Homo sapiens: one gene and its partners. The protein of the gene in region 3 purifies or fractionates together with the protein of the main gene of each other region. This does not show direct contact. Each region holds a gene or a part of one and is shown on either strand. Other genes may lie near its edges.

Region 1 (3,828 bases), on a different chromosome or scaffold from region 3:
GCTTGTCTTATCACACTGTCTTCCAGCAGTGCAGGAGAATTGAGGTTCCTGATGACGTCGACAAAGCCAGGAAGGCTCCCCGTCATCAATGCCTGCAGTCAGAAAATGCAAGAATTAGGCCACTGAATCCAAAACCGGAGCATGAAAAGGGCACTGAAGATTTTTTTTTTTTTTTTTGAGACAGGGTCCCTCTCTGTTGCTCAGGATGGAGTGCAGTCATGCAATCAGGGATCACTGCAGCTTTGAACTCCTGGGCCCAAGCGATCCTCCCACCTTGGCCTCCCAAGTAGCTGGAACTACAGGTGTGTGGCACCACACCCAGCTTTTTTTTTTTTTTTTTTTTTTTTTTTGGTAGATACAGGGTCCCGCTATGTTGCCCAGGCTGGTCTGAAGATTTTTTATGGATAAAATAGGTGAGCATAAAGCTAGGGCATCCCTAGTACTGGTGGCTGGGTCAATGTTAGGACAGTAATTAGGGTAAAGAAGAGAAAGAGGCACATAGATTCTGGTGAAAAACTGTAAACTCAATAGTAACAAAGATAACCATATTAAAGGACATTCATGGCTCCTAATAATCTTTCCAGCTGACAAGAGGTTAAAGGAGGCGGCTAGGGATAGCGAGACGACGGCAACAGCCAGAGAAGCAGCTATGGGTTTGCGATGTAGCTGAAGCAAACGGCAAAGTGAGGTATACATTAGAAACATTAACCTGTGTATTCAAAGCCTCTGCCAGGTCCCAATTAAGATTCAAATCTCCACGTGACAAGCAAAGTCCATACGACTCCTAACAATCCAGCAATTCCAATGTCTACCTTTGAGTGGAAAACCAGGATGAAAGCAGTCCTAAAGCGTGAACTTTCAGCAATTTGCAAAGTGAACTGGGGGCCAGGGAGGCCACTGGGATAGTCTCTTCTGCTCCCACCCTCAATGTTGCCCCATATTTTCTGGGAGGGGTGGGAGGTGACTTGCCCTTATACCCTTCTGATAATAGAATTGAGTCAAGAATTTCCCTGAGTTTAGCATAGAACCTAAGAGGCCATGGTAATGGGTAACAGATCTCTGTGATTTAGAGTTATACAGCCACCCCAGCCAGCACTGGCATCCTGGAACCTGTGCAATGAAAATAAACGGGAACCTGGGTAACATCAGCAGGTGAAATAATTTTACCGAGACATCTTTAACGATAAATAAATGCAAGTATGAATTATCCAGACTTCTGGAATGCCACAGGGAGGAGCTCGGCAAAATCTCTCTCCCAGGAGCAATAATAAAACTGGATGAAACTGTCAAAAGCAACCATTTTAGTACTTTGGAAATTCACCAAAATTATAGAACAGATTGAGAAGTGCTTATTTAAGAAAAAACACGGAATCTCAGTAAGAACAGCAAGTGCCCATGGTGTTTCTACACAGGGCGGCTCCCACTTCCCTCCTTTCCAGCTCCACGCTGCAGCAGCCACTGAGAAGCCCCACACCCAGGGAGGTTATGAAAACACATCAGGGGTGCTGAAGCACAACCTCTGACCAATCAGTGGCTGACCACTAAGCTATGCGGAGCCAGGGCCAGCACTCAGGAAGACAGGCTTAAAGATAAAAACAAGAACTTAAAAACCAAAAGAACCAAAAGACCTAAGTCAAAACATCAGTTGCCGCACGCTCCCGGGGAGACAGACTGCAGGAACTCACTATACAAACAACCAAAATAACCCTAACAGCCACCAACATTCCTAGGGTGGGGCCAGAATTGAGCTGAGGTGGGGTTTGCCTGGATACACACATTTGTTAAATGCTGTACATGCAAAAATGTAATTGTATAAAAATTATATTTCAATAGTTATTTTTTAAAATGTGAACCTCACCCCAAAATTGTACTCCTTAAAAGGCAGCCAATTACTCTTGGTGAGTATCCTTTTGGACTCTTTTCTGTGTGTGTGTGTGTGTGTGTGTGTGTGTGTGTGTGTGTGTATAAAATCACAAATATATGAAGGTACACATTTTTTACCAAAATGGTAGCAAACTATACAAATTACTCTCAAACTTCTTCAATTAATAACACATCATGAACATCTTTACCTAGGGAAAACACAAGCATTTTATCTTTTTTCCAAACAGCTACAGAGCATTCCAGTGTGTAGCTGTACAATAACGTATTTAACCAAGACCATTTTACTGGGCATTTATTTTAAACAGCTTCCTATGGAAGTGCCACTTGAGCTGAGACCTGAAGGTTGAAAAGTTGTGGAGGTGAGGTGGGACTTTCCAGAGTAAAACACCTGCAAACTGCAAAGGCTCCAGGCAGAAAAGACAGCAGCACCCGGGAGGAAATGAGCTGCGTGTGACCTGTGTGGATGAAGGGCAAGGGAACACGGAAGGGGGCCTATATGAGGATGAAGAGGTAAACGGGAGTGAGGCCACGCAGAGCCTTGAGGGACGGGTGATGGGGTTCAGTGTTCAAACTGGGCAGAGCGTAAACTACTGAAGGGTTTTAAAGAGTAGTGTAGCAGGGTCTGATTTGTGTCCAGAAGTGATTTGGGCCAAGAAAAGGTGCTAGGGCATTTATAACAGTTCAGGCTGGAGCCCACAGCAGCCTGGACGACGGTGGTGGCAGTGGAGATACCAGCTCAGTCAACCTGTATTCACATCCACAGTATTTCAAGAGCACCTGTTCACCTCGTTTCTTGTGCGGGGTAGAGATCATCAATCTTTAAATTTTTACAATATGATAAACAAAAACTGGCATATGGGTTGTTTTGTTTGCCCTGCTCTGATTACTAGTCAAGAATCTCTGCATATGCTTATTGGCCATTCCGCTTTCTTCCTTGGTGGATTCCGTTATATACTCGGCCCAGTTTCCATAGGACTGTCCCTCCTTGATCCGAACCTCTTTATACATCATGGACTTAACATCTTGTATGCCATGTCCACTGTCAATAATTTCTTCAGTTTATCATGTTGTTGACTTTGTTTACAACATTTGACAATATAAAAGTTTTCTGTTTTCATCCCTTCTTTTGTGGCTTTTACAAGGCACCTCCCTCATCCTCACACTAGCTTGGGTTCCCACCGATATTTTTAAAGAGGGTAGGGACTACTTGGCATCCCCTCATCCCAGAAAGCGTGCAGACAGCGAGTGGGCTGCATTTACAGTCCTAAGAAATCTAAGGGAAAGCTCAGGTCTGTCAATCAATGCCAGCTATTATTATGACCAGAAAGTTCTTTAAGAAAGAAAAGGCATTCAAAAATGAGTTACATGACTTTAAAACAAAGCTGCTGCAGGGTCTTAGCAAGTGAAAGCACACTGGACATGTCAGGGTTGGCGTCTGGTTACAAATGTATCAACACCAGGAGATGCTCTGAGCCCTTTCTCAGACTGGAGGCAGGGCAGGGGACACTTTCCTCAACCAACACTGCCCAACCCCAACCTACCAAACTCCAGAGCTGTACAATCCTAACTCCAGTATGGGCTTTCTGTTCTAGCTCCTCCCTGATGGGGAAATAAGGAGCAAGAATCCTCAAAGGACTGAAAATGAAACAAAACACTAGCTCTGGGGTGAGGCTCCCCAGCAAAGGTGAAATAAAACCAATAAGCTGGAGACAGAGGCCCCAAGAACCACAGTGCCAACGGACTGGTCTGAATAGAACCTAGAACCTGCACAATCACTTATACATTTTCTCAAATCTGCCTGTTAAATCTTAAAAGAAAAGGAGAAAAGGGTTCCTTCCACACTTCTGATAGAGCAGATAAAGAAACCGGTGTTCCTGAAAATCAGGGGCTGGATGTCTTTCTTCCAGATTCCCACAGCTAGTTTCAGCAGGACGGCAAAAACTC
Region 2 (3,828 bases), on a different chromosome or scaffold from region 3:
TCTGCTAAAAATGCAAATAAATAATTAATTAAATAAAATAATGTGATCCAGGCTTCAGAATTATTAAGATAGGACAGAGGAACTGGACTTTTTAGCAAGCACCCCAGATAATTCTTCTCCTTCTTATAAAACACTTAACCCAGGTTCATTTAATTGCACTTTGGTAATCTGCAGCCATGTCTTTATGTGAGAAAGGGATATTAGGTTTCTAATATGAACAGAAAGGCCTAGCCATGGACCACCTGATGATGCTTCCACTGTGGTCAGATAAGATAATTTACAATTGAATGGAATTATTTTCCTTTCAGTTTATAGTTTACTGAAGTGAGCCTTGCATTGTAAGTTCCTGAAGTAATCACTGGAAATGTCTTAATTCAGTAGCTCCATCTTTAGTTAATGCTGCACTAAAAGAAAAAAGGAATTTTACTTACATACTTTTTGACAAGTCACATTCATATATGTTTTAGTGGAAAAACTGTTTTACATCTTATATATAGAAGCTGTAAAATAACATGTTCTGGGGAGAGGAATAAGATGAATAGAATAACATTATAATTATCTAAATGTTCTTTAAATGGAGATAGCCACAATCTTTCGTAAAACTCTGGAAAGAACAGCATGACCTTCTTATTGCCCCCTTTCCACCGACGTCAAACAGAAGGAAATTATAGAATAAGTCTGTCTAAATTTTAAATGGTTCAGTTATCGGAAGACCTTAGAGAGCAAGTTTTCCACAAATCATCTCTGCGCCATTTTGTCTTGATTATTTTTTTAAGGGTTGGTTTGCCAACATGTAATTAATCACTTTTGTTAGTTTTTAAGGAAATGAAACTGCATTGTTCCCTTTGGCTTGACTGTTCTTTTTTATGGCGTCTTTTAGTGTTGTAGTTGTAATATGAAAACCTTAGGTAAATGTTGGGCAGTAATGTGAACAAAACAGTGGGAAGGGAGTAATTTTTAAAAGCTTATCTACATTGCTGCTGTAATACTTACATTCAACTCCAGATCTCAAATACCACCAACTTTAATATCAAAGTCCCTTAAAGTCAGAAGGTGTTATAATGTCAGTGGATGGGGTTATTCCCTGTGTACAAAGAGTCAGGATGCACTTGTCACCAATTCCCATGGTTTCTTCTTCCAAAATCTAGTTTGAATGGATCATTTCATCTCTGGAGGAAGGGATGGGAGCACCCTTCCGACCAGTTTCATTTCTTTGGGCTCTGTTCCATCTGTGCAGGGAACTACCTTCTCTATGGAAATTGGACACGATTTTAAAAATAAAGCATTGCATTTACTAATGACTGTCAGTATTAAGATTTCATGTAGATCTTGTTGCTTCTCAGAAAAAAGTTTCATATACAGTAAGGTTTTAAAGATAGGCAAATAACTAGTTGTGAGCAGGCACCATCCTTTAACTTTTATTAATTTGAAATCATTTTTCCATTTTTAAGCAGAATAGAATGTCCCAGTAGGTGTAAGGGAAATTTCAGTAGCCTCCAAGACTCTGTGGAGATTTTGAAACTATACACGCTTCTCCATCTGTCGCCTGCCCCCTCCTCCCAGAGCATAGACTTCAAGGCTGGACTTTGCTCCATGTTAATGATCACTGTTAATGAAAAAGATAATAGGTTCCAAAAGGCTGACCACCTGTTTTTGGTATTTAGGGTAATGCTGCTGTCAAAGTGAATGAGATATATTCCTTCCTCTGTGTTCTGAAAGTTTACGTAGGGTTGGGTGTGTAATGGGTTGAATTGTGTCCTGCGTCTCCACCAAAAAAAAAAAAAAAATGGTTGAAGCCCTAACCCCCAGTACCTCAGAATGTGACCTTATTTGGAAATAGGGTCATTGCAGATGTAACGTTAAGATGAGGTCATACTCAATGAGTATGAGCTCTAATCCACCCTAAGAAAAGAGACACACACATGAGGAGAAAATGTCACGTGAAGATAGAGGCAGGGACTGCAGGGCTGCAGCTGCAAACCAAGACACACCAGGGGCTTCCGGCAACCACAGGAAGCTGGGAATAGGCAAGGAAAGATTCCCCCTACAGGTTTCCGGGGAAGCACAGCCACGCTGACACATTGATTTGGACTTCTAGCTATCAGAGCAGTGGGACAATAAATTTCTGTTGTTTAAACTACTCGTTTGTGGTATGTTATTATGGTAGCCCTAGAAAACTAATACAGATTTATATTTTCTTTCAAGTTTGATAGAATTCACCAAACAGTGTTGAGTTTTCTTTGTGGAAAGGTTTTGAATTGTGAATTCAGTATCTTTAATAGATGTAGGGCTATATAGATGTTCTGTTTACTCCTGTGTCTGTTTTGGTAATTTGTATTTTAAGAAATTTGTTTATTTCATTTAAGTTGCTGAATTTATTGGCATAAAATTGGATTGTTCATAATATTTTTTGATGTCTTAAAGGATGGTGTTCCCTCCTTTATTTCTGATATTTTAAATTTTTTGTTGTTGTTCAGTCTAACACAGTGGTTCTTAACTGGGACAGTTTTGCTCTGGCTAAGGACATTTGTCTGTGCCAAGGGACATTTGGCTATGTCCGGAGGCATTTTGGGTTGTCACAGCTTGGAGGATGTGCTACTATCATCTAGTGGGTAGAGCCCAGGGAGAATGCTAAACATCCTACAATGCACAGGACAGCTTCTCACAGCAAAGAATCCTCCAGCCCACAATATCAGTAGTGCTGAGGTTAAAAAACCTACTCTAGGCTTTATAGTGTAAACCTTCTATTTTCCAAAAATATTATATCATTTCATGTTTAATATAGTGTTTCCATTCATCCCCTTCCAGTCTTCAAACTGGTTGTGGGCATACCTTTTACTTCTCTGTATATTATAAACCCCACGATATATTGTTAGCTGTTTTTGCTTTAAATAGTCTGTCAAGGAAATTTTAACATAAGAGAATATGTTCAGTTGTTACTAATATATTTTCAGCACTCTGTATTCTTTGTGTTGACTCAGATTTCCATGTGGTATATTTTCTTTCCACATGAAGAACTGCTTTCATACATCTTACAGGTCTGCTGGAAACATAGTCTCTCTGCTTTTATTTGTCTGAAAAACTCTGTATTTATCTTCATTGTTGAAGTATATTTTGGCTCTATATAGAACTTTCCATGACAGTTTTTAATTTTTTTTTCTTTCTTTGAGACAGAGTCTCGCTTTGTTGCCCAGGCTGGAGTGCAGTGGCGCGATCTCGGCTCACCGCAACCTCCGCCTCCCGGGTTTAAGCGATTCTCCTGCTTCAGCCTCCCGAGTAGCTGGGATTACAGGCATGCGCCACCATGCCCAGATAATTTTGTATTTTTAGTAGAGATGGGGTTTCTCTATGTTGGTCATGGCTGATCTTGAACTCCTGACCTCAGATAATCCTCCCAAAGTGCTGGGATTACAGGTGTGAGCCACCGTGCCTGGCCCTAAAATATTTTAAAATATGTCATTTCATTGTTTTCTTGTTTGCATAGATTCTGGGGGGAAATGTAGCTATTGTTCACTATTATAAGGCTTTTAAAAAAATCTGTGTATTTTACAAAGTATTTTGGGATTTTGTTGTTATTGAAAAATAATAACCTAAAATTTAATGCAACATGTTTAGATTTTACAAACAGACTTGTATTTGACTTGCGTTTGGTATTTCTCTTTTTTCCTTTTCTTTTTTTCACTTTTTTCTCTTTTACTCATTAAAATATGTATTTTGGGGCAAGCTATTTCTCTGAGCCTCAGTTTTCTCACCTGTAAAATTGAGCTACCAATGATTCTCACAGGTTTATTGAGGAAATTAAATGTATTGAAGGATGCAAAATGATTT
Region 3 (3,600 bases):
GAACTGCATCCGAGTGTTCCCTAGGGGTTTGTTTCTCAGACTTTGTGGAATTATCATCTATGGACTTGCCTGATGTAACTGTTAGGAGAGCAGGGTCAATTCTACAACACTGACAAAGATCTGGGTTGTCTCGCAAGGCAAAGAAGGCTTGCACATAAGGAACCTCGGACCATTTGCCCTCCTGTCTGCAGAAAACATCTAGTTGTTGAATAGTATTAATATTAACACTTCCCTCAGGAGGCCAAGCCTCCCCATCCTGCAGCTGGTAAGACGGCCATGCCCGAGTGCAAAAGAATATGAGGTGCTCTTTCTTCAGAGTCTGAGTGTCAAAGGAGTTCCAGTGTTTCAGAATGCACTTGAGAGGAGTATAGGCTGAAGATGATTTGTTACATATCTAGAAAAAGAGGAGAGAAAAGGCATCCCTTAGTCTCCTTTGTCCTTCTGGAGTGATCGACAGCAGAGAGAAAAATGGAAGGGGCGTCCCCCTTCTCCTCTTCCCTCCCATTTCCTCAGGTTCCTGGTGACCATTATAGGTGCTGCCCATGGATCAAAGCATGACCTTCACCCATGAATCCGGAGGAGCTAGCTTGTGCTCACCTGCACAAGGTCCTAGCTCTCTGCCCTGCTGGTTTCCTAGACCTACTTGGCCCATAAGGCTCCTGAGATTCCCTAGAACCATGGGAGAGATTGTGCAGTAGTTGGATTGGGGCAAGACCCTTTAAGGAAGGGAACATCTTAACTCTATCCTTACATCCTCTTACTACCACCCTGGCAAAGTTATGAATTCCTAGAGAATGAGACTGATTGATTTCTAAACACAAGATCCCTTTCTCACTTAGATGCCAGTGTAGCTGTGTACAGAACAGATGCCTCAAAAGAATGTAAAAATTGAATGGCTGTTCTCCCTCCAATGGGGATAACACTGAGGCTAAAATATGTCTTCCCAGGGTAGCTTCTTCCTGGCTGTTGAAAGAGGAGTTTTTATGCTTACAAATAGGGCATGGGGCCTGATCACTGAAAGAGGGACATAAGAGAGAAAGGAATCAGGGAACTAGAGGTTTTGGGCAAAGGGCTGACAAGGCTTCTCACAGAGAAAAATCCCATCCCACTAGGTAGCACTATAGGGTTTGAAATGTTAGGAAAAAACTCTGACTACAAATTCTTTCCAAGCAGAGGTCAGAAAGGGAGGTTTGGGGCTTAATAGGCTGTCCCCATAATATGCTGTCCAGTAGAAAAAAAACTAGTTTGTCTCATAGAGGGAATGCTTAAATTCATTGGGCAATGCTGAGCTCTTACATGAAGGAAAAACAACCTGATGGAGAAAAGGGTATTCACTTGGGGTGAAACATCCCCCTATAGAGTGCCATGAATGTCTATCACTGGGGGACAAAAAGGCCCTAAGTGAAAATTTAGGCTGAAATCTTGAAGTCCCCCTGTCTCAAGGAAATCACAAAAACAACAATTATTTGAGTTACATTCCTCGTTACTAAGGCACTTGCTGACTTTGCTTAACAGGATTATCTCCCCAGGCTATAAAGACACCCACAACATTGCATACAAAGAAGGAATAGGAGACATAGTAGCTGCGAAAAGCAAGGAAGAAAATGCAATAGAAAAGTCTGGAAGTCCTGGTGCCAACATTCTGACGGGCTGTCGGGGGCTGGAGTTAGTCCAGGGACCTTCAGGTAACACTGAGGAGTAGCCTCAAACAGAAACCTTCAGTTGCCCCAGGACCTCCTTCTAGCCCATGTGACAGCTAAGTCCTCTGTGAAAGGAAACTGGATTAGAACAGAGCCAACATTCCCAACACCTGAGGGTGAAGGGGGACTGACAAAGTCCTCTCCAGCAAGCCTGTATCTTAAGTCTCATAAGGTTGGCAGCCGCTCTAAAAGCTTTTAACTGGCCCAGTGTTTTGTTCAGTCTTCAGGAAAAAATCTGAGGACAAGAAGCCTCTGAAATGAAAGTAAAGAGTTTGGAGGTCCGCTCCTACTCACCCTTCCAATGTTTCCTGGCCAATGCACCAAAATGTTAGTCTCGTCAATGCACCACAATGTAGCAGTCTCTCATTGCCCAAGGTATCACCTGAAGTTCTTTGTCTCATGACCAAGAAAATTAAGGAGCGCGGACCCCAAAGATGAAGTTGAAGTGAAAGTTTAATAAGCAAAAGAAGAAAGCACTCCACTGCAGAGAGGGGGCCCAAAAGAGGGTTGCCATTTCACAGCTGAATACAAAGGCATAAGGCACACATTTCTGGTAGCTCCACCCCATCCTCGTAGTGTGCATGCAAGCCCTTAGCTTGAGTTACTCCATGTGGCTTTGTTCCCCTTACTGTGCATGTGTCAGGGGATGGAATTTTCTATTGTGAGCATGTCTAGGCAAGTCTCCTGTGTAGCCTTGTTTTAATGTATGTGGCTGTGGGCATGTTTTAGGCAAGCCCCCCTGTACAAGTTCCCTTATCTGCAGTTTGATTTTTCAGGCTGTTCTTTTGTTTGAAGGAATTTGACTGAGGGCCCACCCTAACTGCCTGCCTGACTAGTTTCTTCCTTCCTCCTCTCTCAATAGCACCTGAATATCAGAACCAGAGAAAGGCAAGAAATATGACAACAGTCACAAATACCACAAGAAACATTTGAAAACCACTTTTTATCCAGTTTTCTCATGGCCTAGATCCAACAGGAATAAGTCCCGTGAATCTAAATGGCCAACTTTAGATAAAGGGCCATTTTTCTTAATTGACTGATTATTCCACTTCTCCTAAATTATTTATAATGAGATGTACTGGCTGTTGTGCAGATTTTGCCTTGACAGGCCCATAAATAATTGAGGGCCCTTTTATTATCTAAAACTATTTTAACCAACACATTTACATAGGTCTCTTGGGCCTCTAAAGCTTGAGCTGTTTTATTTACTATTTGGGCCATAGTCAGGGATAAAAATGTTTAGAAACATGTTTTAGTTTAGAAATACCTAGTGAGGGTTAGAAATTCTTAGTCAAACTAGTGAGATCTGGTGGTCAGTTATTGATCAGATAAAATATGAGGAATTCCCCTCTCTAAGCCATAGTTTCTAAATGTGTGAGAAAAACAAGCAGTCCACACATAGTTCAGGGCCTGGTCTGAACACTAAAGTCTGGTTCATTCACAGAGATATAATACTTGTTTAGTATGGAGAAAGAGAGGGAGGCTTTACAACACATCACCCCAGAGTCACAAACCACCATACAGAGGTCAGATGGTATGTGACAGCTAGGTCCTCTGTGATAGGAAACTGGATTGGAACACAGCCAACATTCCCAACACCTGATGGTGAAGAGGGACTGACAAAGTCCTTTCCAGCAGGCCTGTCCCTTGAGGCTTGTAAGGTTGGCAGCAGCTGCTCTAAAAGCTTTTTACTAGCCCAAGACACAGGGCTGAACTTTGCTTTGGAGCCCCTTACCTTTTTCCAAGGAATCAAAACAATTAATAAAACCAGTCCAACACCAATGAATGAAATAGGCCACCAATGAATGGAAAAATTATCTGTCTTCTCAGTTTCTGCAGAGAGAGAAGGAAAACATTAGCAGGAAACCTACTGGCAAGGGCCAGAGAAACCACACAACTG

The links.
Region 1: the proteins of NCR3LG1 (region 3) and PIGG purify together in Homo sapiens (affinity purification with mass spectrometry; 2 studies listed by BioGRID and IntAct, with this or other methods). This does not show direct contact.
Region 2: the proteins of NCR3LG1 (region 3) and RYK purify together in Homo sapiens (affinity purification with mass spectrometry; 4 studies listed by BioGRID and IntAct, with this or other methods). This does not show direct contact.

The regions. Positions count from the first base shown.
Region 1 is NC_000004.12:501,982-505,809, reverse strand, and holds part of PIGG (GPI ethanolamine phosphate transferase 2, catalytic subunit), read right to left. Parts: intron 93-3,828; coding exon 1-92.
Region 2 is NC_000003.12:134,160,194-134,164,021, reverse strand, and holds part of RYK (tyrosine-protein kinase RYK isoform 2 precursor), read left to right. Parts: intron 1-3,828. UniProt on the Homo sapiens protein: May be a coreceptor along with FZD8 of Wnt proteins, such as WNT1, WNT3, WNT3A and WNT5A. Involved in neuron differentiation, axon guidance, corpus callosum establishment and neurite outgrowth.
Region 3 is NC_000011.10:17,368,800-17,372,399, reverse strand, and holds part of NCR3LG1 (natural cytotoxicity triggering receptor 3 ligand 1 precursor), read right to left. Parts: intron 3,534-3,600; coding exon 3,436-3,533; intron 395-3,435; coding exon 1-394. UniProt on the Homo sapiens protein: Triggers NCR3-dependent natural killer cell activation.